Homo sapiens: one gene and its partners. The protein of the gene in region 4 purifies or fractionates together with the protein of the main gene of each other region. This does not show direct contact. Each region holds a gene or a part of one and is shown on either strand. Other genes may lie near its edges.

The links.
Region 1: the proteins of SLBP (region 4) and NOP14 purify together in Homo sapiens (co-immunoprecipitation; one large-scale study listed by IntAct). This does not show direct contact.
Region 2: the proteins of SLBP (region 4) and CPSF3 purify together in Homo sapiens (affinity purification with western blotting, with the first as the bait; one study listed by BioGRID). This does not show direct contact.
Region 3: the proteins of SLBP (region 4) and YTHDC2 purify together in Homo sapiens (co-immunoprecipitation; one large-scale study listed by IntAct). This does not show direct contact.
Region 5: the proteins of SLBP (region 4) and CSTF3 purify together in Homo sapiens (affinity purification with western blotting, with the first as the bait; one study listed by BioGRID). This does not show direct contact.
Region 6: the proteins of SLBP (region 4) and EIF3C purify together in Homo sapiens (affinity purification with western blotting, with the first as the bait; one study listed by BioGRID). This does not show direct contact.
Region 7: the proteins of SLBP (region 4) and DHX15 purify together in Homo sapiens (affinity purification with western blotting, with the first as the bait; one study listed by BioGRID). This does not show direct contact.

The regions. Positions count from the first base shown.
Region 1 is NC_000004.12:2,956,907-2,960,406, reverse strand, and holds part of NOP14 (nucleolar protein 14), read left to right. Parts: intron 1-2,666; coding exon 2,667-2,801; intron 2,802-3,500. UniProt on the Homo sapiens protein: Involved in nucleolar processing of pre-18S ribosomal RNA. Has a role in the nuclear export of 40S pre-ribosomal subunit to the cytoplasm.
Region 2 is NC_000002.12:9,440,654-9,444,153, forward strand, and holds part of CPSF3 (cleavage and polyadenylation specificity factor subunit 3), read left to right. Parts: coding exon 1-13; intron 14-1,164; coding exon 1,165-1,323; intron 1,324-2,861; coding exon 2,862-3,008; intron 3,009-3,500. UniProt on the Homo sapiens protein: Component of the cleavage and polyadenylation specificity factor (CPSF) complex that plays a key role in pre-mRNA 3'-end formation, recognizing the AAUAAA signal sequence and interacting with poly(A) polymerase and other factors to bring about cleavage and poly(A) addition.
Region 3 is NC_000005.10:113,551,694-113,555,193, forward strand, and holds part of YTHDC2 (3'-5' RNA helicase YTHDC2), read left to right. Parts: intron 1-1,487; coding exon 1,488-1,666; intron 1,667-1,896; coding exon 1,897-1,993; intron 1,994-2,073; coding exon 2,074-2,161; intron 2,162-2,248; coding exon 2,249-2,329; exon of another isoform or gene 2,330-2,339; intron 2,340-3,500. UniProt on the Homo sapiens protein: 3'-5' RNA helicase that plays a key role in the male and female germline by promoting transition from mitotic to meiotic divisions in stem cells.
Region 4 is NC_000004.12:1,698,820-1,702,319, forward strand, and holds part of SLBP (histone RNA hairpin-binding protein), read right to left. Parts: intron 1,252-3,500; coding exon 1,192-1,251; intron 883-1,191; coding exon 745-882; intron 1-744. UniProt on the Homo sapiens protein: RNA-binding protein involved in the histone pre-mRNA processing.
Region 5 is NC_000011.10:33,098,981-33,102,480, reverse strand, and holds part of CSTF3 (cleavage stimulation factor subunit 3), read left to right. Parts: intron 1-141; coding exon 142-304; intron 305-2,763; coding exon 2,764-2,873; intron 2,874-3,330; coding exon 3,331-3,447; intron 3,448-3,500. UniProt on the Homo sapiens protein: One of the multiple factors required for polyadenylation and 3'-end cleavage of mammalian pre-mRNAs.
Region 6 is NC_000016.10:28,717,964-28,721,463, forward strand, and holds part of EIF3C (eukaryotic translation initiation factor 3 subunit C), read left to right. Parts: intron 1-312; exon of another isoform or gene 313-3,069; intron 3,070-3,500. UniProt on the Homo sapiens protein: Component of the eukaryotic translation initiation factor 3 (eIF-3) complex, which is required for several steps in the initiation of protein synthesis.
Region 7 is NC_000004.12:24,578,055-24,581,554, reverse strand, and holds part of DHX15 (ATP-dependent RNA helicase DHX15), read left to right. Parts: intron 1-3,500.

The DNA of each region.
Region 1 (3,500 bases), 1.3 Mb from region 4:
ATATTCCAGATAATGAGAACTAATATTTTTAGAGGCAGAGATGGCTGATGCCTGCCCCATCTACCCCCTTCCTGCTAGAAGCCAGTGACACTCCCTCCCTCTGCAGGGACAGACCTCAGAAGTCTTCTCGGTGTATGCTGGGTTTGGTGGCTCACACCTGTGATCCTAGCACTTTGGGAGGCCGAGGCAGGCAGATTGCCTGAGCTCAGGAGTTCGAAACCAGCCTGGGCAACACGGTGAAACCCCATCTCTACTAAAAATACAAAAAAATTAGCTGGGCGTGGCAGCGTGCGCCTGTAATCCCAGCTACTGGGGAGGCTGAGGCAGGAGAATTGCTTGAACCCGGCAGGTGGAGGTTGTAGTGAGCTGAGATTGTGCCACTGCACTCCAGCCTGGGCGACAGAGCGAGATTCCATCTTTAAAAAAAAAAAAAAAGGTCTCAGTGTAGCATGCAAGCAGCCTCTGTCCGTACAGAGTTCATCGAGCAGTACAGGCTAGCACATGTAATGTGCTCCCATCTGATTGCCAGCTAGACCTTGTGATTTAAATAGTGAGATGTTGTTTTAAAATTTTGCTCTGCGGATAAAGAATGGTGAAGGTTCAGAGAGCTTAACCTGATTCAGTACTGTGTGTGGTTCACTATCAGCATCCAGCAGGATCTCGCTCTGGAATGGCTCGTAACAGAAGCGGAGAGAACAGAGCAATGGCGATGGAGCCCTCTGGTCTATCTGGGGACACTCGCTGTCTTTAGACTCTGGTTCAGGAAATTGTACCCAAGGTGGTTTGTTTGTGTTTTTTGTTTTTTTTTGTTTTTGAGACAGAGTCTTTGTCTGTCGCCCAGGCTGGAGTGCAGTGGCACAATCTCAGCTCACTGCAAGCTCCACTTCCCGGGTTCACGCCATTCTCCTGCCTCAGCCTCCTGAGTAGCTGGGACTACAGGCGCCCGCCACCACACCCGGCTAATTTTTTTGTATTTTTAGTAGAGACGGGGTTTCACCATGTTACCCAGGATGGTCTTGATCTTCTAACCTCGTGATCCGCCCGCCTTGGCCTCCCAGAGTGCTGGAATTACAGGCGTGAGCCACCGCGCCCGGCCCCAAAGGTGTTTTTAACAAACATTGTTTAGCACTGCCACGGTAGGAAGTTACTAGAAGTTACTAGGGATTAATAACTCAGCGTGTGTCAGTTGAAACAAATTGGTTCTTGAAATATTCTTGAAGAAAATGACGAAAATTGCCTTGGCAGTATTTATTGAACTAATGGATGGTTTCCTACTCTTCAGGTAGCAGAGGGGTTTTTCATGCATTTTAAGTGTAATAATAGCACTTTCACATTTCAAAGTGAGATAAGAGAAATGGTTTTTTCACATCCTTTTCTCCTGTCCACATGATTAATATTTCGGTTGACCTCTCCAGATGGAATGTGCTCTAAATGGAAAGGAGGGCCAGGTCGTGCTTCTGTCCCTGCTGGAGCATCTTCTGCTCTTGCCCAGCTGCTTCTTAACCCCTTCCACTCTCTTTTCCTCCTCTTCCAGCTCCTGGTTTTGACCTTAAATCTGGGTTTCTTAGCCTTTAAGTTCATCTCCGACCCTGGGGAAGTGACCTATGTCTGGAGCAAAATCTGACCTGTCCCCTCCTGAAACAGAACTTGGAACCAGAGTGGCAGTGACCAAGTCACCACACGCTCCCTCCTGCCACACGCACGCATTCTTTCAAAGTGACTTCACAAATTAGAGGAATCCCTGAGGAAGGCAAGGAACACTTAAGTCGGGTTAGATGAGAGGTTTCAAATGTCTGCCGAGGCACCGATTTGTGGTGGGTTTGTAAAACCACTGAATTGGATCATTCCAAGGGCCTTCCATGGCATCAAGATTTTGCCTTGATGCCATTTCCTTTCGGAATTGCTGTGTAAACACCAGTGTAATGGCAGTTCCTTAGCAAATAGAAGAAGTTCCGCAGCAAGAAAGAGTTTGCAATGTGGCCATCTCAGGTTGCAGAGGCCACTCGTTCCTCACCCATCTCTGTCCTCTCACAGCTTTCTTTAGGGAATTCAACCTCCAGGACAGCCAACTTTGAATACTGTTAAACTTGGTCTTTTTTTGTTGCTGCTGGGAAAATAACCAAATTATTTGATACTTGCTAACCGTATTTAAAATATTGCTCCTCTTGGTGTTATAAAGGTGAAGCCCCTAAACTGTGACCTCGCTAACTTGTTTATTGCCTTGTGTCTAGTATGAACTCACAACTACACATTTCTTAGGAGTACCTTTGATGGGAAATAGTACCCTCCTCCATGACGGAAGGAGTCTAAACCCATTTCCACTTTTCCAAATGTGCACGTTTTAAACCTTAAGGCAGCTGTTACAGCCGAGGGAGCCATTCATGCCTTGAGCTTGACTAGTGTGTTCTTTTTTACCCTTCCTTTTGGCACCGGTAGACTCTAAAGAAGAAAAGAAAGTGATTGCCCCATTATCCTTGAAAGTTGTTTTGCTCTTCTCAAAATTCTGTGATTAGTAGAGAAAGCCTATCGTGCATGAAAGCAGATTGGGTGTGAACTTTGACATCACTGTGCATAGCCCTGAACTTTAAAGTATGCACTGTTCTGATGTCCCCTGTAGTGGAAATCACAAGAATTTTTTGTGAGATTGTTTCTGACCTGTTTTCCAGCGTACACAGACTTTACTAAAAGAGTACAAAGAAAGGGATAAATCCAATGTATTCAGAGATAAACGCTTCGGAGAATACAACAGCAACATGAGCCCCGAGGAGAAGATGATGAAGAGGTTTGCTCTGGAACAGCAGGTATGGAAAGAAACTGGAGGAGGGTTTTTGCTGTACATTTCACAGGGAAGTCAAGGCCAAGGAGAAGGCTGACTCTGCATGTTTTGCATGTTCCTGGGCACTCGGAAGGTCCAGGGGATAGCCCTCGAATCCTGTGCCTTATCTGGCTAGGCCAAAGGAGAAGCAACCTCTTCTGCAAATGTTAGCTGAATGGATAAATGCCTTAACTCTACTACACGGCAGCAGTGTGCACAGGAGTTCTCAGCTGAGCAGCATTGCTGGAGTGGAAACTGGCCCCTGGGCTTATTTAAGAATTCCCCTCCATGAGGCCGGGCGCGGTGGCTCATGCCTGTAATCCCAGCACTTTGGGAGGCTGAGGTGGGTGGATCATGAGGTCAGGAGATCGAGACCATCCTGGCCAACGTGATGAAACCCCGTCTCTACTAAAAATACAAAAATTAGCCAGGCGTGGTGGCGCATGCCTATAATCCCAGCTACTCAGGAGGCTGAGGCAGGAGAATCACTTGAACCAGGGAGTCAGAGGTTGCAGTGAGCCCAGATCACTCTACCGCACTCCAGCCTGGGCAACAGAGCGAGACTCTGTCTGAAGGAAAAAAAAGAATTACCCTCCATGAGTTTCATTTCTGTCTGAATCATGAATCATTGCTTAGTTGACCCAAAATACTCTTTAAGGCTGCTTAGGATTCGTTGTCATATTTC
Region 2 (3,500 bases), on a different chromosome or scaffold from region 4:
TAGTAACCTCAAGGTGAGTGCTTGTGGAAGAAAGACAAGGATGGATAAAACCAAATCAGTCATTAGTAGTAGGAGGTACGAGGCCGTGAGTGATGGCTCACAGCTGTAATTTAGCACTTTGGGAGTCTAAGGCAGGAGGATCACTAGAACTCAGGAGTTTGAGACCGGCCTGGGCAAGATAGTGAGACCCTGTCTCTATCAAAATAAAATAAAAATCGTAGGCAGTGCTTGTCAGTGACTCTGGCTGAATTCCTCTTGCTGGAGTCTTACCGCTTCTCAACAGGTGTCGTTTTTCTGCAGAAAATCAAAACTTCAGCAGCTGACATTCTTTTTCTGCTTCAACAGATTTTGCCACTTGCCCCAAGTAGCCATGTGTTCTCAGTATTTATAATACTCATCTCTTTTGCCGTAGGCATAAAAAGTTCTGAGGAGAAAAATATTTTGTATTATGTATTTAAGTTTCTCTTCTCACTCAAACCAAATCATCTTTTTGATTAGTGCTGCAAATTCTATATATGAAAATTTTTATATACTTTTCTGGAAGCATTCAATAAAATCTGATTTTATTTAATTTAAAAAATACTGTTTAACTCGATGCTTGAATCATAATAAAATAATTGATATCCGAAATAATTTAAAAGTGGACTTCCAGTTGTAAATAGGCTTTGTTCATAAAGTATTTATTTTAAGTTAACTGCTTAAGGATTGTAGACAAGTTCTCCCTAGAACAATGTTAAACCTTTTGATTTCCAGGCCAGCTCAAAACATGCATGGAGCATGCAAAGCTATTGTGAGTCTTTGGGAATATTTTTTCAGAGTTGTGTCTTGGGTAGATCAAGACCCATTTGACTCTTCCTTTTACTTTTCTGCCTGCCTGCTAGGCGCTGAAGATGGTCCTGATGGTTCTGATGGCCCTCTAGCTACCAACAGAAGGTTTTGAAGATCGGGGTGAACTTACCGCTTTTTATTACTTGGTTTTTCTACCATTCCTAGCCTAAACTGTTTAGGAATTTGGCAACTGAACTTAAAATGTTTACAGATCTTGTGAAGGCTCTTTCAGTGATGTGATTAATCTCTTAGCCTTTTGTTATTCTTTAAAAAGAAAGAATGCTTTGTCAGCTGCTGGTAGCTAACATACTTTTCCCATTCTGTTTTCTCTCTTAGAGCATGGATCATTTTGATGACATTGGTCCCAGTGTTGTAATGGCCTCCCCAGGCATGATGCAAAGTGGCTTATCCAGAGAATTATTTGAAAGCTGGTGTACTGATAAGAGGAATGGTGTCATTATAGCGGGATACTGTGTAGAAGGGACACTTGCCAAGGTCAGTTACAGTCATAGGCTGTTGTGTTATTCCTATTCAGAATCACGGAGGTGGCACGGTCCTCACAGGTTTTTGCACTGAAGTAGTTCTTCAAATAATACAAGTTTTGATTTTTAAAAATGAGGACGGGAATAGGTAGCTAGAGATGTGCGTAGGATGTAGAATTATGCAGACACTGAATGGCATAATGAGGTCCCAGGTGATTGATATACACATTAAAGTTTGAGAAATGCTCATCTGGTTGCAAGTAGAGAAGAATGGACAGGAACCTGTTTGAGACAAACACGTGAATACTCTCCGTCCTCTCATGAAGAAGAGGTTGACTAATACATATGATCTTAAAAAGCTGTAGAATGTGTTTGGGTTGACCACTTTCTACTATTATGAAACATTGATTTTCAGCTCTTAGGGATGTAGAAATTGTAGAAAATATATGCAGAACTTGGGAGGCAGTTTCTGAGCATCCAGGCATCACATTCTCATCCTCTATTTTATTTTTAAAAATATGATATGATTCTTTGATAATCTTTATTACTTTACCTTATTCTATAAAGTTCTTTAGTGACAATGTTGTATTTAAAATAGATTTCCAGGCTGGGTGCAGTGGCTCACACCTGTAATCCCAGTACTTTGGGAGGCCAAGGCGGGCGGATCACCTGAGGTCAGGAGTTCGAGACCAGCCTGGCCAACATGGCGAAACCCCGTCTCTACTAAAAATACAAAAAATTAGCTGGGCGTGGTGGCGTATGCCTGTAATCCCAGCTACTCGGGAGGCTGAGGCAGGGAGAATTGCTTGAAACTGGAGGCGGAGGTTGCAGTCAGCCGAGATTGGCGCCACTGCACTCCAATCTGGGTGACGGAGCAAGACTCCATCTCCAAAAAAAAAAGAAAAAAAAAATTTCCAGGCCTGGCACAGTGCCTCACATCTGTAATCCTAGCACTTCAGGAGGCCACAGCAGGTGGATCACTTGAGCTCAGGAGTTGGGGACCAGCTTGGGCAACATGGAGAAATCCCATCTCTACAAAAAATACAAAAATTAGCCAGGTGTGGTGGCACGTGCCTGTAGTCCTAGCTAGTTGGGGGACTGAGGCAGGAGGCTTGCTTGAACCCAGGAGGTCGAGGCTGCAGTGAGCTGAGATCGCACACTGCATTTCAGCCTGGGTGACAAAGTGAGACCCTATTTGAAAAAACAAAGATTTTCAGAATAGAAATATATCCACATATCTAGGAAATGACTTTGGAGAGCACAAGAATAGTTGGGAATACAGGTTTGTCTTTCTAAGCATAAGAGTTATGATTCTCACTGCCAGCACTCCAGATAGATGAGTTTTAGTTAATTTGTTTACTTTTCTCATTAAATGTTTGCTTGATTGAGAACATGAGTATTTGATATTTACTGAGTCAGTTATATTAGAATGATTTTGTGCGTAAGGTCCTAAATTTAACATGAATTTATGACTGCATGAAAAAAATGAAAATGTACCTTTACGATTATAACTGGGTAGTTTGTTTTGTTATTTTTCTTTATTTTCCACAGCACATCATGTCTGAACCTGAAGAAATCACTACTATGTCTGGACAGAAGTTACCACTGAAAATGTCTGTTGATTACATTTCTTTCTCAGCTCACACGGATTACCAGCAAACCAGTGAATTTATTCGTGCTTTGAAACCGCCTCATGTGGTTAGTCTATGAATTTCATTTATTGTATTAAAGGGAAAAAAAGTGCATACCCAGGAAACTGTGCAGCAGGCAGTTCACAAAGCAGGCATCATCACCTACTAATGCGACACCCCCTGAGCAGAGCCTTTCACATGCACTCGGATTTGGCCTTTACAACTCCCCTTTGATTTCAGCAAGCTGCCCCCTTTCTCCAGAACTGACTGACTCAGACCTACCAACCCCAATCCTAATGTTTTTCTGTTATTTTCTGCTGCCTCTCCAATAATTTAAGAGCCAGGCTTGGAGTATGACTGCTCATTTGGAATGCCAGCTCCATCTCTTACTTACTATGTAACCCTTGGCAAGTTACTTAACCTCTCTGTACCTCATTTGTAAATAGGAATAATAGCTCATAAGGTTATTGTAAGGATGAAGTGAAAGAACATATCTAAAGCACTTAATATGGTGCCTGGCACATAGTAAATGCTTAATATATATATTATATATATATAT
Region 3 (3,500 bases), on a different chromosome or scaffold from region 4:
GTGTATACCTATGTAACAAACCTGCATGTTGTGCACATGTATCCCAGAACTTAAAGTATAATAAAACATTTACAAGAGCCAATTATTAAGTTGTAGAAGTTTAATATTTTTCCCATTGAAAATAGTCTTACGTTATTTTTCTGCTAAATTCTTTAAGAGAGATTGGATTTATTTGAACTTCCTAGAAATTCTGTTGATAATTGCTAGTGATAGCAGTAGTTTACATTTTTACATATAAGATGAAGAAGCAAGGCATTTATTTCAGTAATTTATGTTGATTCTTGCTTTTGGAAAATAGCATAATCAACTTGCTTTTAGTATAGAATTTTCTAATTAACAGTCATGTTAAGTTGGTACCTACTGAGTTTTTTAAAAATGTGAACTATACATCAGAATATTGTTTATAGTAGTAAACAATTAGATACAACCTATTAAGAAAATATAAATGATAGCTGAAAGTTTGTGGTTTTTAACAGTTTTATTGAGATATAATTAATATACCATATAATTCACCCATTTAGGTGACCAATTCAATGGTTTTTCATATGTTCACAGACTTATGCAATCATCACCACAATCAATTTTAGAACAGTTTCATCACCACAAAAAGAAACTTGTACCCATTAGGTGTCTCTCCCTATTCCGCCCCAACTCTCCTAGGCCTCCTCCAGCTTTAGACCAACCACTAATCTACTTCCAGTTTCTATAGATTTGTCTATTTTGGACATTTTATATAAATGAAATCATGTGATATGTGGTTTTTGTGATTGGCTTTTTTCAGTTAGCATAAAATATCCATGTTGTAGCACTATTTTTATGACTAATACATATTCTATGGATATACCAAGGTTTGTTTGTATATTTGTCAATTGATGAACACTTAGGTTGTTTCCACTTTCTGACTATGAATAATACTGGTATGAATATTTGTGTACAGATTTTTATGTGGATATATTTTTTTCATTTCTCTTATATATACACCTAGGAGTGGAATTGCTGGGGCATATGGTAACTCTATGTTTAACCTTTTGAAGAACTGCCACATTGTTTTCCAAAGCAGCTTTACCATTTTACATTTCCACCAGCAATGCATGAGGGTTTAAATTTCTCCACACCCTCTCCAACACTTGTTATTGTCTGTCTTTTTGATTGTAGTCATCCTAGTTGGTGTGAAGTGGTATTTCATTGTGGTTTTGATTTGCATTTCCCTGATAGCTAATGATGTTGAACATCTTTTCATGTGCTTATAGGCCATTTGTATATTTACTTTGGAGAAATGCCTTCAGATTGTGCTTTTCTAAAAGCATTCATTGCCAAATTTTACTTTGAATAATGTGCTTGAAATCAAAACATGAATCATATTATAGCTAGGACATTAAGTGTCACTTACCTTACCTTCCTTAGGGAATATTGGAAATTTGAAGGACATAAGGATTACTTTTGTTAATGGAAATTGACTTTGTCTTTTTTTTTTTTTTTTTTTTCAGTGCTACACTGGAATTTGGAAATCTAGATGAAAGTTCTCTGGTTCAAACAAATGGAAGTGACCTCAGTGCTGAAGACAGAGAGCTCCTGAAAGCTTATCATCATAGTTTCGATGATGAAAAAGTAGACTTGGATTTGATCATGCATCTTCTATACAATATCTGCCATAGTTGTGATGCTGGTAAATACGTGTTGTCTAAAAGAACTGGAGCAAAATATATACTTTAAGAATTAATATTTTAAGTGTACAAATTTTTATATAATTGCACTGATAGTAGTAAGTGAATAATCTCCTGTCATCTTATGATAGTTTACCAGTACTTGAAAACATGTGATACAGATTTTTATAATTCTGTTGATTGCCTCTGATTCACAATGAGATTTAATATTAAAAAGTCATTCTTCTCCAAGGTGCAGTACTAATTTTTCTGCCTGGATATGACGAAATTGTTGGACTGAGAGATCGCATCCTGTTTGATGACAAGCGGTTTGCTGACAGTACACATAGGTAAGGGCTAAAGCCTTATATCTGTTGCTTAAAATAACGGACAGGTCTTATAGTATGTTTTCTCTTTCAATTGTCTGCAGATACCAAGTCTTTATGCTTCATTCAAATATGCAAACATCCGATCAAAAGAAAGTATTAAAAAACCCACCTGCAGGTGTTCGAAAAATAGTAAGCTTCATAAAATCTTCTTTTTAACACTTTCATTAGTTATTTTTTCTGTTTTTTTATTAACTTTAAAGTAATATCTTGTTGCAGATTCTTTCCACCAATATTGCTGAAACCAGCATCACAGTCAATGATGTTGTCTTTGTTATTGATTCTGGTAAGGTGAAAGAGGTATGTATGGGTAAGTTGTAGTTTTACTTAAATGAAGAAGATTAAGTTCTACTTCAACAAATACTTTTATTTATTATTTAGTTGTTTTTCTTTTAATTTTACCTCTACTCAAGACAGCTTGGACCAGCGCATGCTTTTATAAGCAGAATTTACGAAAAATGTCTGGTTCTAGATAAATTTAACATACTAAATATTGATTTTACTAAATATTCTGCCTTAAATAATTCAGTATATAGAATCAATTTTTGTTATTTTAACAAAGTATACAAAAATGTAGCTCTGCTCACCAAATACTAGGAAGAAAGTAAAGGGTTTGGTTAGTTATAGTGAAAATGTTGTCACACAGTATGGGAATTTGATTACATATTTTTTATGTTTTCCTTCTACATATGCACATGGATTATGTCTTTGTTCACTGTTAAATCTTTAGTGCCTCACCTATAGCAGGTGTTCAAAAGATACTCAGTTCAAGAGAACCATGCTGAAAGAAAGCAAAGAAATAGATAAACCATGGGATAACCAGCAGCTAAATTGGACTTAACACTTGCTTTTGTAAAAAAAAAGTTTCATTGGAACTCAGCTAGTCTACTTTTACCTTTTCTCTATGGTTGCTGCCTTCATACTGCAAGGCAGATTGGAGTATTTGTAACAGAGACCCTCTCAAAGCCTAAAATATTTACTATTTGAAAGTCCTTTTCAAAAACAGCCAACCTTTGTTATAAAAAAAAAAAAGCCATTTATTTCCTTTTAGTACTGGAATGCCCAGCAGTTGTCCATGTTCCTAACTTTTGGTAGATAACATTCGCTGAAAAAATGAAAGTGGTAAAGATAATTGATTTTTCAAGGGAAGACATATTACTCATGTGTGGAAAGCAAATTATATCTATTTAGTGGATAAAAATGATCGTTTTTAATGTGAAAAAAGTAATTGCCTTATGTTTTCAATGTAATTTTAAGGAATATTTTATAGAAAATAAAATTTTATTATAAAAATTGGCCATATGCTTTATAATTGAATAAAGGTGGGATAAATTTTATTTTTATATAATAGTACATTAATGAGTATTATCACTAAAAATCTTAATGGTGAGCCAATGAAAATTCAGATTTTATTGCCCTAAAATTACCTAAAGTGGATAAAGTGGGTTTTGAATATTTTAGAAAGTTCCTT
Region 4 (3,500 bases):
ATACTCTGCAGCCCAGGCTGGAGTGCAGTGGTGTGATTAATGGTTCACTGTAACGTTGAATTCCTGGGCTGAAGCAGTTCTCCCACCTGTCTCCCAAGTAGCTGGGACTACAGGTGCAAACCACCACACCTGGCTAATTTTTAAATTTTTTGTAGAGATGAGGTCTCCTTATATTGCCCAGGCTAGTCTCCTGGCCTCAAGCAGTCCTCTCGGCCTCCCAAAGTGCTGGAATTACAAGCATGAGCCATTGCACCTGGCCCAGAAATGTAAATTTCAACCCCAATCCTGCCAAAAAGTTCAGGAAAACACTAAAGCTTTCTTTATATCCTTCTGTGTCTGTGTGTTTGAGGGACCAGGATAGGCAAGAACATGCTGCTTAAAGACAATAGGGCAATGCCAATTTTTTTTTCTCCAATTAGAATTTTACAATATTTAACTTGAACTTCATTTTTCCCCATCATGTATTTTAATAAGCTTACATCTATGATTGCTGACTCCTAAGAAATAAAATGTTATCTAACATTCAAAATTATATGAAAATGATTTTTAAAATCTTCATGTCTTTAGTTTTCCAGTTGCCAATCCATTCTTTATTTACGTCATAAGCCCCAGTAAGTCCCTATTAAATAGCTCTTAGCAGGTGTGAACTATCCCCAGCATCATTTGTACTACCCAATCTAAGCAACTCTTTAGAAACGCAATGCCACACAGCTTGTTCAAGACATGCCACTGAAACAAGACTACCTTGGGACTTCTTTAATATAACGATCGTAGGCAATTGTGTTCTTCCCATAGTTGATCTGCTTCTGTCTCCTCATTAGGACACTTTCATCTGTCTCAAAGTCAGCCGGCACAGTAGACATAGACTCCTTTGAATCAGAACTGAAAAAACAACAGATTAACAGAATAAGCCCTGCAATTAAGATCACCATGTATGTAAGGTAAGCCAAGAAAATGTCAAAACACAATAATGGAAGATTCACTCCAGATTCCCAACCATATGAATCCTAAATAGTCCGGAGACTGCATGTATGGGAATTTAGTACACAACAGATACAGTATTTCAAATTAGTGAAAAAGGTATTAATAAATGCTACTGCGACAGTCAGCATTTCTGACAGTCACAATTTTTTTTTTTTAACAAATTACAGGTCTATCAAATTAGAAAAGAAACATTTACACAGCCTTTACCTTCCTGATGATGATTTTCTCTCTCTTCCAAAGTCATTGATGAGGAGTTTCCTTTTATATCTGAGGGCAAAATAAATATTGCTGTTTTTAAAAAAGATATAAAAATAAAGCAGCCAGGTCTGAGGAAGCTCCACCCTGATGCCCGCAGGCACACCATCCTATGCAATCCAGAAGCTCCGTGGGCCAAAAGAAATCTTTGTCAGGTTCAGTTTAAGTAGTGAGATCCACACAACAAAAATTTACATTCCCTAAAACTTGGCAGCCTTAAAAAAAGAAAAACAAAACATAAATTGAAATAAATTATTTTAAAAACACCAAACTTACTAATGGGACTCATATGCCTACTGGGCACTGCATACCTTCTCCAATCCTGGAGACCAAACGTGCCCCCTTTTCTCTTGTTCCTCATGAACTTCCTGAGGCATCTGCTTTCTATTGCAGTCATTACCAGAACGCAGTTTTGCAAAAAAAAAAGTATGACATCTCCAAAAGGAGTCTAGCGCAATCTGACGTTGAAACCACGAGCTACCTTGAGCTCCAAGTTCATGTGAGTATCTTTTTTTTTTTGAGATGGGGTCTCACTCTGTCACCCAGGCTAGAGTACAGTAGCACGATCATGGCTTACCACAGCCTCATATTCCTGGGCTGAAGCAATCATCTCACCTCAGCCTCCCAAGCAGCTAGGACTCCAGGCAAGTGCCGCCACAACCATCTCCAAAAAAATTTTTTTCTTTTTTTGGAGACATGGAGGTCTGTGTTGCCCAGGCTGCTCTTGAACTCCTGAGCTCAAGCAATCCTCCCGCCTCAGCCTCTCAAAAGTACTGAGATCAGGAGTGAGCCACCACCCCTGGCCTGTCATGCAGGTATCTAAATTATGTCATGTATTACTGTGCCTCCTCTCAAAATCTAAAATCCACCCAAGTTTGCTGAGGTGTTCAGTGCAGTTTGGACGCCAGAAGGTAATGAAGTAATTTATCTCCCGTGCATCTAGAGTAGCACTGGCTATATAACACCATCTTTGTACGATTCAGAGATTAGTCCTGCAAATCATTTGCTGCAGGGCCTCATTCTCTCCAGTACCACAGATGAGAAAGACTGGTTTTCAGGTATGATGAAAATCCATTTTCTTTTTTTTCTTTTTTTTTTTTTTTTTGAGACGGAGTTCCCTCTTGTTGCCCAGACTGGAGTGCAATGGCGAGATCTCGGCTCAGTGCAACCTCCGCCTCCCGGGTCCAAGCGATTCTCCTGCCTCAGCCTCCTGAGTAGCTGAGATTACAGGTTGCTGCCACCACGCCTGGCTAATTTTTAGTATTTTTAGTAGAGACGGGGTTTCTCCATGTTCGTCAGGCTGGTCTCGAACTCCTGATCTCAGGTGATCCGCCCGCCTTGGCCTCCCAAAGTACTGCGATTACAGGTGTGAGCCACCATGCCATGCAGAAAATCCATTTTCATACTCTTATATTGCTAGTTTGTAGTCTGTTAGTCTCCTTAAAGCATAGTAAGCTGACATTTCATACCGCTCTTACTGTCAGGAAGTAAGCCGGCCTGTCAGTAATGGCTCACTAAAGGGCCAGCAGTTTAAATTACACAGGTTGCACTAAAAGCTGCAGCTTTGGCCAGGCAAGGTGGATCACGCCTATAATCCCAACACTTTGGGAGGCCGAGGCGGGCAAATCACCTGAGGTCAGGAGTTCAAGACCAGCCTGGCCAATATGGTGAAACCTAGCCTCTACTAAAAATACAAAAATTAGCCGGACGTGGTGGCACACAGCTATAATCCCAGCTACTCGAGAGGCTGAGGCAGGAGAATCGCTTGAACCTAGGAAGCGGAAGTTGCAGTGAGCTGAGATTGCATCATTACACTCCAGCCTGGGAAACAGAGCAAGACTCCATCTCAAAAAAATAAGTAAGTAAATAAAAGCCGTAGCTTTCCATCACAAAGGGTATAATCAACAGAGCAGCCCAAACAGTGCTGTTTTCCAAAACAGGACAATTTTCAGGCACAGACCCATGAGATATCTGAAGAACAAATAGGGTCCACTCACAGGACAATCTGGACAGGTGGAATACGCATGAATAAGAGCTGCAGATAACCCCTGGCAAGGGGTGACTTGAGGGAGCAACTAGGCTATCGGTATGCAAGAACTGTTCTAAGACTTGTGCATGCAACACAAACTATACAAGTCAAGTCAAACATTCTAATTTTATAATTGAGGAAGTCAAGACCTATATAAATGCAATAATTCACTAAAAACACTGGTACTCTCATCTGTGAACTCCTAGTTCATTTCTTCTACCAAGGCATACAT
Region 5 (3,500 bases), on a different chromosome or scaffold from region 4:
AATAGTTTTTAGATTATATTAACAAAGTGGTATTTGGAAAAAGTAGGCATCTTGAACAGTCTTCCAAACTGATCTACCCCATCCGCCATATATCTCAGTTGTTCCTGGCTCACCAAAGAATTCTAAATCCTTGTTGTCTAGGAATATGAGACAGTAATGAAAGGCTTGGACCGTAATGCTCCCTCGGTGCCTCCTCAGAATACTCCTCAAGAAGCTCAACAAGTAGATATGTGGAAGAAATATATACAGTGGGAAAAGAGCAACCCTCTTCGTACAGAGGATCAGACCCTTATAACAAAAAGAGGTAACATGATTAACCCTCATGGGACTTCAGTTACATGTATGTTAGGCCACTTGGTATCCCCATAGGTTACTAAAATTTTCTTACCCCTAATCTTTTTTTCTTTTGTTCTTCAGATTCAATAATTCCTATAGATCTATCTCCATATTCACTGAACCTTTGTTTTCATCATATGCAGTCTGCAATTAAGCCCATCCAGTGAACGCTTTATTTCAGATACTATATTTTTCAATTCTATAAATTTCCATTTTAGAAATTTTTTATTTTTTATATTTCTTTTTTATGGTGTCCATTTCTTAGTTGAGATTCCTTGTGTGTTCATTACCATCTTTTTCTTTGTTTCTTAGAACATATTTATAATAGTAGTTATAAAGTCCTCATCTGCCAATTCCAACATCTGGGCCTTCAACCACCATGGAGTTTATTTTCTTTGATTGCTTTTTCTCTTGACTGTGGTTTACATTTCCCTATTTCCTGTTTAAATTTTTTCTTTTAGATATTGTACAAATGTACAAATGAAACATTGTAAAGACTGTAGATTCTGTCATCTTCCTCTGAAGAATGTTTTATTTTAGCAGGAAGTTAAATACTACTGTCAGATTACTTGGACTTTGTGGAGGCTTAGTTTTATACTATGAAGACAGGTCTGTTTTAGTTTTACCATTAATCTCAGATTAAATACCTTATTCTTGGGACATAGTCTTTACTCCTAAGACAATGAAAAGTCTAAGGTGTTTACCCCAACCATCTAATTGGATCGGACTCAAATTCTAAACTTCATCTCCCTTAGTTGCTGAGGTATCTATTTAACTCTTTCTGCCTTCCAGCTTTGTTTTCTGCTGGTCTGTTTGTATTCTTCCCTGTGTATGTACATTTTAGGGATCAGCTGAGGATTTGAGAACATTTATGCCCAGATTTTCGGGATCTGGCTTTCTCCTTTTGGGGATGTCTCCTCAATTTCCAGCTGCTCTCATAGGCCAGAACTCCATGTTACTTCAAGACAGTAAGACTGCAGCATTTGACTTGAGTTCTAGCTATCCCAGAAGTGCACAACATGGGCATGCGTTTGAAGGGAAAAGCCATATTTAAATATGGATCTCACCTAGTGTTGTTCTGTCTTTTTAAGGGCTCAGTCTCCTGATTTCTGCTTCTTTTGGTCATTTCCAGTACATTTAGATAGTTGCTTTTGTATTTGTGTTTTGTTTATTTATAATTTTTACTTGCTGAGGGTTGGTCTGATACAAACTACTCTGTCAGTGCCAGACTCTTAATTTGGAGCTTTATTGAATTCCTCAATCTTGCCTTGCTGTTGCCTTGCTATCTTACTTGCAGGTCTTTGCAAATATTGTTTCCTTTGCCCACTCCATTTTTGTATCTACCCCATCCTTACTCCACTTCACTTATTTGCCTCTGACCAGCTTCATCCCTTCTTCAGGTGTTGTGCTAGATGTCAGTTCCTTAGTGAAGCCTTTCTTGAGTCCCTAAACTATGTTAAGTCCTGCTGCTGTAAGTTTTCAGAGTATACTGTACTTTCATCATCATAATCCTTTTGATCTTTGCTTTCTGTCTGTCCTCCCCGTATACTGCAGACTTCTTGAATATAGGAAGTCTTACTCACTGGTATATTCACCGTGCCTTCCACATTCCCTGGCATATAGTTGGTGCTCAATAAGTATTAACTTAGGCTGGGTGCAGTGGCTCACATCTGTAATCCCAGCACTTTGGGAGGCTGAGGCAGGAGGATTGCTTGAGCCCAGGGGTTCAAGACAAGCCTTGGCAACATGGTGAAACCCCGTCTCTAAACAAGATTTTTTTTTTTTTTTTTGAGATGGAGTCTTGCTCTGTTGCCCAGGCTGGAGTGCAGTGGCGTGATCTCCACTCACTGCAAGCTGTGCCTCCCGGGTTCATGCCATTCTCCTGCCTCAGCCTCCAGAGTAGCTGGGGCTACAGGCACCCACCACCATGCCTGGCTAATTTTTTGTATTTCAGTAGAGACAGGGTTTCACCATGTTAGCCAGGATGGTCTCGATCTCCTGACCTTATGATCCGCCTGCCTTGGCCTCCCAGAGTGCTGGGATTACAGATGTGAGCCACCGCACCTGGCCACAAGATTTTTAAAAATAAGCCAGATGTGGTGGCACACGCCTGGTCTCAGCTACTTGGGAGGCTGAGGCAGGAAAACCACTTGAGCCCAGGAGGTCGAGGCTGCAGTGAACCATATTTGTGCCACTGCACTCCAGCCTACGTGACAGAGACCCTGCTTCCAAAAATAAAAAAAATTAATAAGTGATGGATAGATGGAGGGAACTTGGATGGATGATGGTGCCAGAAATCACTAAAGCTTTTTATTTCTAATTATCATTAATTTTTGAGGAGCCTAATTTGGTTATGATATTTACATTGATAGTTTTACAAATAATAATTATTTTAATTGAATATTGTTTGTTAATTTCTTCCCTTAGTTATGTTTGCTTATGAACAGTGCCTGCTTGTGCTGGGCCATCACCCTGATATTTGGTATGAAGCTGCCCAGTATCTTGAGCAGTCAAGTAAACTGCTCGCAGAAAAGGGAGTAAGTGTTCCTTCCCTATCCCCACTTTGATATTTTTGTGGTTTTGATATAGCAATTATTTACTGAAAAATATAACTGAATTTTGGTAATAAAGCATAAGTATTGAAAATTTAAGTTTACGTTCATATGAATCTTAGTGACACTCATATAATTAGACCTCCTTAGAATTAAAATAAACTGGCAGTTTTTTAACGTATCAAAGTAATGAATCATTTAGAGTACTTGCATGGTTATTTTGTAAGTTAAAATAATGAAAGGAGTTTTTGGAATTTTTTTAGAATCCAGAAATGCATATGTGTTTATGTATGTGTGTGTGTGGATACATATATATGTGTGTACATACATGTATGCTTTCTTAGACACATAAATAAAATAAAGTAGATGTAACTTTATTAATTTTATTCTCTCACAACTATATTAAAATTATTGAAGATGAGCTTTCTTTTTTTTCTACCAGGATATGAATAATGCCAAATTATTTAGTGATGAAGCTGCTAATATATATGAAAGAGCCATAAGCACTTTATTGAAGAAGAATATGCTTCTTTATTTTGCATATGCAGATTATGAAGAGGTAAGTAAAAATGTTTAGAGCCTTCTTATAATTCAATTTTTTAGTGCAGGACT
Region 6 (3,500 bases), on a different chromosome or scaffold from region 4:
AAGGCAGGAGAATTGCTTGAACCCGGGAGGCGGAGGTTGCAGTGTGCCGAGATCGCGCCATTGCACTTCAGCTTTGGGCAACAGAGCAAGACTCCGTCTCAGGAAAAAAAAAAAAAAAAAAAAAAAAGAGTGTCTCTTAAGCACAGCTAGGTTTTTGGTTTGTTTTTTTTTTAATCTCATAAAATCTCTGCTTTTTTTTTCTTTTATTGTGATACATAACATTTCCCATTTTAACCATTTTCAGGTATACAAATCAGTGGCATTTAGTACGTTCACATTGTGCAATGACCGCCAGAACTTGATCTCTGCTTCTCTGGCAATTTAGTTCATTTACGTTTATTATAGTTATTTACATATATATGATGGTTATTTATATATGTGTCTACATAATTAGTTTTTATCAAGATGGGGTCTTGCCCTGTTGCCCAGGATGGTCTCGAACTCCTGGGCTCGAGTAACCCTTCTGCCTGGGCCTCCTAAAGTGCTGGGATTACAGGCGTGAGCCACTGCGCCCAGCCTATTGTGGTTATCAATGCATTTATTCTTACCATTTTATGGTATCTTATACTTTCTGTTTATCCTCTTTATTTTAAATTTTGTAATAGCTTTATTGAGGTGTACATGACATACAATAACTGCACTTGTTTAAAGTTTTTTTTTTTTTTTTTTTTTTTTGAGACAGAGTCTTGCACTGTCGCCCAGGCTGGAGTGCAGTGGCGCAATCTCGGCTCACTGCAAGCTCCACCTCCCGGGTTCACACCATTCTCCTGCCTCAGCCTCCTGAGTAGCTGGGACTACAGCCACCCGCCACCACGCCTGGCTAATTTTTTGTACTTTTAGTAGAGACAGGGTTTCACCATGTTAGCCAGGATGGTCTCGATCTCCTGACCTCGTGATCCACCCGCCTCGGCCTTCCACTAAGTGCTGGGATTACAGGCATGAGCCACCGCACCCAGCCTTAAAGTTAAATTTAATAAGTTGTGACATATGTTTACACCCATAGAACTCACCACAATCAAAACATAATATCCTAAAAATTTCACACCTAAACATTTCCACCTTCCCCTTTGTAATACTTCTCCCTGCCTCAGTTTCCTCACCCTATCCCTGGGCAACCACTAATTTGCTTTCTGTCACTAGGTAAGTTAGCATTTTCTAGAATTTTATGTAAATGGAATCAACGGTATATAATTTGGAGGGGGTAGTTTCTTTAATCATAATTATTTTGAAATTCATTCTGTCTTCTAAAGATTGGGCATCTCTAATTCCAAAGTCTGAAACTTCTGGAGCACCATAAGTGGACAATTCCACATCTGACCTCATGTGACAGGTTGCAGTCAAAACTTTGTTTCATGCACAAAATTATTTAAAATACTATGTAAAATTGCCATCAGGCTGTTTGTATAAGGTGTAGATGAAACACACAAATTTCATAGTTAGACTTGGAGCCCTTCCCAAGATACCCCATTATATATATGCAATTATTTGAAATTTGAAACACTTCTGGTTCTAAGCATTTCAGATAAGGGATATTCAGCCTGTATTTTATTTTTCTTTTATTTGTGTGTTTTTTGTTTTTGTTTTTGAGAAGGAGTCTCACTGTGTTGCCCCGGCTGGAATGCAGCGGTGCAATCCTGGCCCACTGCAACCTCTGCCTCCTGGGTTCAAGTGATTCTCAGGCCTCAGCCTCCTGGGTAGCTGGGACTACACGTGAGCACCACCACGCCCAGCTAATTTTTATATTTTTAGTAGAGATGAGGTTTCAGCATGTTGGCCAGGCTGGTCTTGAACTCCTGACCTTAGATGATTCGCTCGCCTCAGCCTCCCAGAGTACTGGGATTACAGGCATGAGCCACCACACCTAGCCTACATGTATTTTCTCATCCTCTTTTTTTTTTCCCCGTTTCTAGTTATATATATTTTCTTATTATTCATTTTGTTTTTTTCTGCTGGTTTGGGAGTTAGACGTGCTATGCTTTTAGAGGTTATTCTTGAATTTTTTTTTTTTTTTTTTTGAGACACTAGCCTGTTGCCGAGGCTAGAATGCAGTGAGTGGCGCAATCTCGGCTCACTGCAAGCTCCGCCTCCCGGGTTCACGCCATTCTCCTGCCTCAGCCTCCTGAGTAGCTGGGACTACAGGCACCTGCCACCATGCCCAGCTAAATTTTTTTGTATTTTTAGTAGAGACGGGGTTTCACTGTGTTAGCCAGGATGGTCTCGATCTCCTGACCTCGTGATCTGCCCACCTCAGCCTCCCAAAGTGCTGGAATTACAGGCGTGAACCACCGCACCCAGCCAAATTTTTTTTTGTTAACCTGTAAACTAACTTGTATACCTAATCAGAATAGTCTAAAATTAGTTGAATCAATGTTCTGAGGAAAACCCTTGAGAAAATAAAGTTAGAATTTCAAGTGTCAGAATCTTTTTGACATTGAGAGTTTGTGGCTTTGTAGTGTAGAAGAATAATTCACAGACACTATTTCACTTGTGTAACAAGGGAGACAGATTTTCAGATTAATTTCCAACCGAGCAAAAGCAGGATTTATATAGGAGAAAGAGGAACAAGGAGAGAGGGCAAAACCACAGAACAGTGGATTCTGTTTGCCCGTTTTTCTGTGTAAACTCTGATATTAACTCTCCTTGAGTATGCCACCCAGGGTTGGTGGATGCTCTAGAAAACACGATAGGCCCTCTGCCAGTAAGGGTTTTCAGCAACTCCAGATTCAGCCAGTCTAAATATACCCTTTCCATCATCAGCATTTCTCAGCCTTCATCTTTTGGTCAAAACAAGCTTGTAAAGGAGTGGGTTTATTCTCATGAGCTTCAGCCTCTTTGATGTGGGATAAGGCCATCTGTTGTCTTATGGTGATCTGAAGGTATTAGGGGGAAGTTCATCTATACCTGATGTCATGATTGACCTGTGAACTCTTTTTCTTTTTTTCTTTTTTTAGATGGAGTCTTGCTCTGTTGCCCAGGCTGGAGTGCAGTGGTGCAATCTCATCTCACTGCAACCTCCGCCTCCCTGGTTCAAGCAGTTCTCCTCAGCCTCCCAAGTAGCTGGGATTACAGGCACGTGCCACCACGCCTGGCTAATTTTTTGTATTTTTAGTAGAGACGGGGTTTCGCCGTGTTAGCCAGGATGGTCTCGATCTCCTTATCTCTTGATTGCCTGCCTCGGCTTCCCAAAGTGCTGGGATTACAGGCGTGAGCCACTGCGCCCAGCGACCTGTGAACTCTTACAGAGCTGCTGTCTACTTCTAAGAGTTACCTGATTCTGGAGGCGTTTTTTTGTTTTTGTTTTTGTTTTTTAAGTGAACCCCAGGATCTCTAGTGAGACTGAATGTCCGAGTTAGGATCCTAAGCAAGGGTATACATCTAGGGCTTTCCATCAGTAGTTGTGGTTGGGAAGGCATGGGAAAATGGTGTGGTCCTCTGCAGTGTAGTTAGGCCTGACTTCCGTTGGTGTCTCTCAATAATGAGTTTTTAGTCTCTTAACTATG
Region 7 (3,500 bases), about 23 Mb from region 4:
TACTCAAAGGTTTAAAGAAGGCATTCCCTAAAATCTTCATCTCCATCTTTGGATAACAGTTTTTGGTGAACATTTTCTAAGATCTCTGCATATTGACTCAAAAATATGAACTATAAAATTTAATATCAGTGGGATCAACGCGTGTTATTTTGTACTTTGATTTTTTTTTCCACTCAGAAATGTCATTAACTGTAGGTACACATTACGCTTTTAAATTGGCTGCCATAGGCCGGGCGCAATGGCTCACGCCTGTAATCCCAGCACTTTGGGAGGCCGAGGCGGGTGGATCACGAGGTCAGGAGATCAAGACCATCCTGGCTAACACGGTGAAACCCTGTCTCTACTAAAAATACAAAAAATTAGCCGGGTGTGGTGGCGGGCACCTGTAGTCCCAGCTACTCTGGGAGGCTGAGGAAGAATGGTATGAACCCGGGAGGCGGAGCTTGCAGTGAGCCGAGATTGTGCCACTGCACTCCAGCCTGGGCAACAGAGCGAGCCTCCATCTCAAAAAAAAAAAAATAATAAAAAATAAATAGATTGACTGCCATAGTACTCCAGTTGTAAAGGTATGACATCACTTATTTAACCAATATCCTGTTCATTGATATTTAGGTAGTTTTCCACTTGTTGCTATTTTATAAATGAGAAGTTTGATGAACATCCTTATACATACGTATTTGCACACATCCTTGAGAGGTTCCTGGAAATAAGATTGACGGATAAAAAGCAGTGCTTATTGCCGGGTGTGATGGCTCACACCTGTAATCACAGCACTTTGGGAGGCCTAGGCGAATGGATCACCTGAGGTCAGGAGTTCAAGACCAGCCTGGCCAAGGTAATAAAACCTATTTTTGTCTCTGTTAAAAATACAAAAATACACTGGGCATGGTGGCGCACTGCTGTAATCCCAGCTACTTACTCCGGAGGCTGAGGCAGGAGAATTGCTTGAACCTGGGAGGCAGAGGTTGCAGTGAGTCGAGATTGCACCACTACACTCCAGCCTGGGTAACAGAGGTAGACTGTCTTTAAAAAAAAAAAAAAAAAGCAATGCTTATTTAAAATATCATGATTTTGATGACCAGTTAATGTCTTCCTTAGCAGTACTTCAGTGCCTGTTATTATTCCATGTAGAATTTTTTTATTTTTTAGAGACAGGGTCTTCCTCTGTTTCCCAGGCTGGAGTGCACTGGTGTGATCATGGCTCACTGCAGTCTCAAATTCCAGGGCTCAAGTGATCTTCCCGTCTCAGCCTCCCAGGTAGCTGGGACTACAGGCGTGCCACCCCACCTAGCTAAGTTTAAAATTTTTTTGTAGAGATGGGGTCTCACTGTATTGCTCAGGCTGGTCTCAAACTTTTGGCCTCTGGTGATCCTCCCACTTGGGCCTCCCAAAGCACTGGGATTACATGCGTGAGTCACTAGGTCTTGCCCTCCATGTAGAATTTTAACATGGTATTAGAACTTAAAAAGATCTTTAATAATAACCAATATTGGTGGGGCGCGGTGGCTCATGCCAGTAATCCCAGCACTTTGGGAGGCCGAGGCAGTCAGATCATGAGGTCAAGAGATTGAAACCATCCTGGCCAACATGGTGAAACCTCGTCTCTACTAAAAATACAAAAATTAACTGGGTGTGGCAGCATGTGCCTGTAGTCCCAGCTACTCTGGAGGCTGAGGCAGGAGAATCGCTTGAAACAGGGAGGCAGAGGTTGCAGTGAGCTGAGATTGCACCACTGCACTCCAGCCTGGTGACAGAGCAAGACTCCGTCTCAAAATAATAGTAATAATAACAACAACAACCGATATTGGGCATTTGCAATGTGCCAGACAACACTTAAAGCACATCACATATATTAACTCATTTAATCCTATCTATACTCTACAAAACATATTGATAGCCACATCTTATAGGTGAGGGAAGAAATAACTGTGATCCTATAGTTGGCTTAAGTCTTGAGCCAAGATTGAACTGAGACACAGTACAGAGCAGTATGTTCAACAACTGTGTCATGTCATACCTCCCTCCCTGCTCGTGGTGTGGCTGTGTCTGAAGCACTGACTTGATACCAGTTTTTAAAAACCCTTATACTTCAACTAGTAAACTTTTAAGAACAAAACTCCTTTATAATAAAAAGTATCTTTTAAAAAAGAAAACACGCATGTGCACAATAGTTGACAAATATTTATGAAGTGGAGGGTTTGATTTTCCCCTTTTACTCACCTTTCATTTGTACTCCCTCTCTCATCGAAGGAAGGTAGTTTGAGCCATAAGCAACATTTCCAGGTGTCTGAATTTGCCTCCTGCATCCTCCCTGTTTTCTTACTTTAATCTGAGACTAAAAGTATCTGAAAATGCTCTTCATTTTGCAGATCAGTAAATTGAGGCAGTGTCTTGCAATGGTGATTCCAGCATTCCTTTTATCTTAATACCACAGCTGTCGCCATTGCTTGATCAGCAGCTAACCTTTTATCTTTAGAATGTATTTTATACATCCTTTGTTTGGTTTGGTAATGAAGCATCTGATGAAGTGGGCCCCTGAAAAAATCTTTGTTAGTATAGGTATTACTTTAACAAACTAAGGCAATATATAATACATGATTTACTTTGTCACCTCTCTTCCCCCAAATTTTGTAACTCTTGACCATGTCTTAATTGCCTGGTACTATGCTAGAAGTATAGAAATCATTAAACTAGGCTGGGCATGGTAGCTCATCGGTAATCCCAGCACGTTGGGAGGCTGAAGCAAGAGATTGCTTGATCCCAGGAGTTGAAAACCATCCTGGGCAACATGGTGAGACCCTTATCTCTACAAAAATAAGAAATTAGCGAGGCGTGGTGGTGCATGCCTGTAGTCCCAGTTACTCGGGAGGCTGAGGTGAGAGGACCACTTGAACCCAGAAGTTTGATATTGCAGTGAGCCATGATCCAGTGAGCCACTGCACTCCAACCCGGGTAATGGAGCAAGATCCTATCTCAAAAAAAAGGAAGTTGTTTCAATTATATTTTTTGTCATCTCCTCCTTCCCCCATGGTTGAGTGAATACTAGAAACATGAATCCTTTTTGTTCAGACCAGATGTTCTTTAAGAGTTCTTTTCTAGCTGTATGATCCATGATCTTTAAGGTGTCAAGTATTTGAACCATTTGTGAGTACAGTGCTTCTTACTTTGCTGGGCACATTTCTGTGTACTCTTATTATAAACTACACCTCGTTGGCATTTTGGAGCAATGTAAACACTTAATTAACAGTCACCTTAGGCCAGAAGCAGGAGAAGCAAAGATAGTTGATGGCATATTTCAGAAGATAGGTCCAGACTCTCAAGTATTGAATTGTGAGACTTCATTTTATGTTTATTAAGTTATCCTTTGACTTTTCTTTCCCATTGATTTTCTTTCTGTTTATGCCAGGTGAAATGAGAGGCTTCATACAGTTCTGGCTTGTATGCTCTGTGATTTTTGTAGAAGGTGAACATTGGGATGGAAGAGGGGAAAATCACTTTTC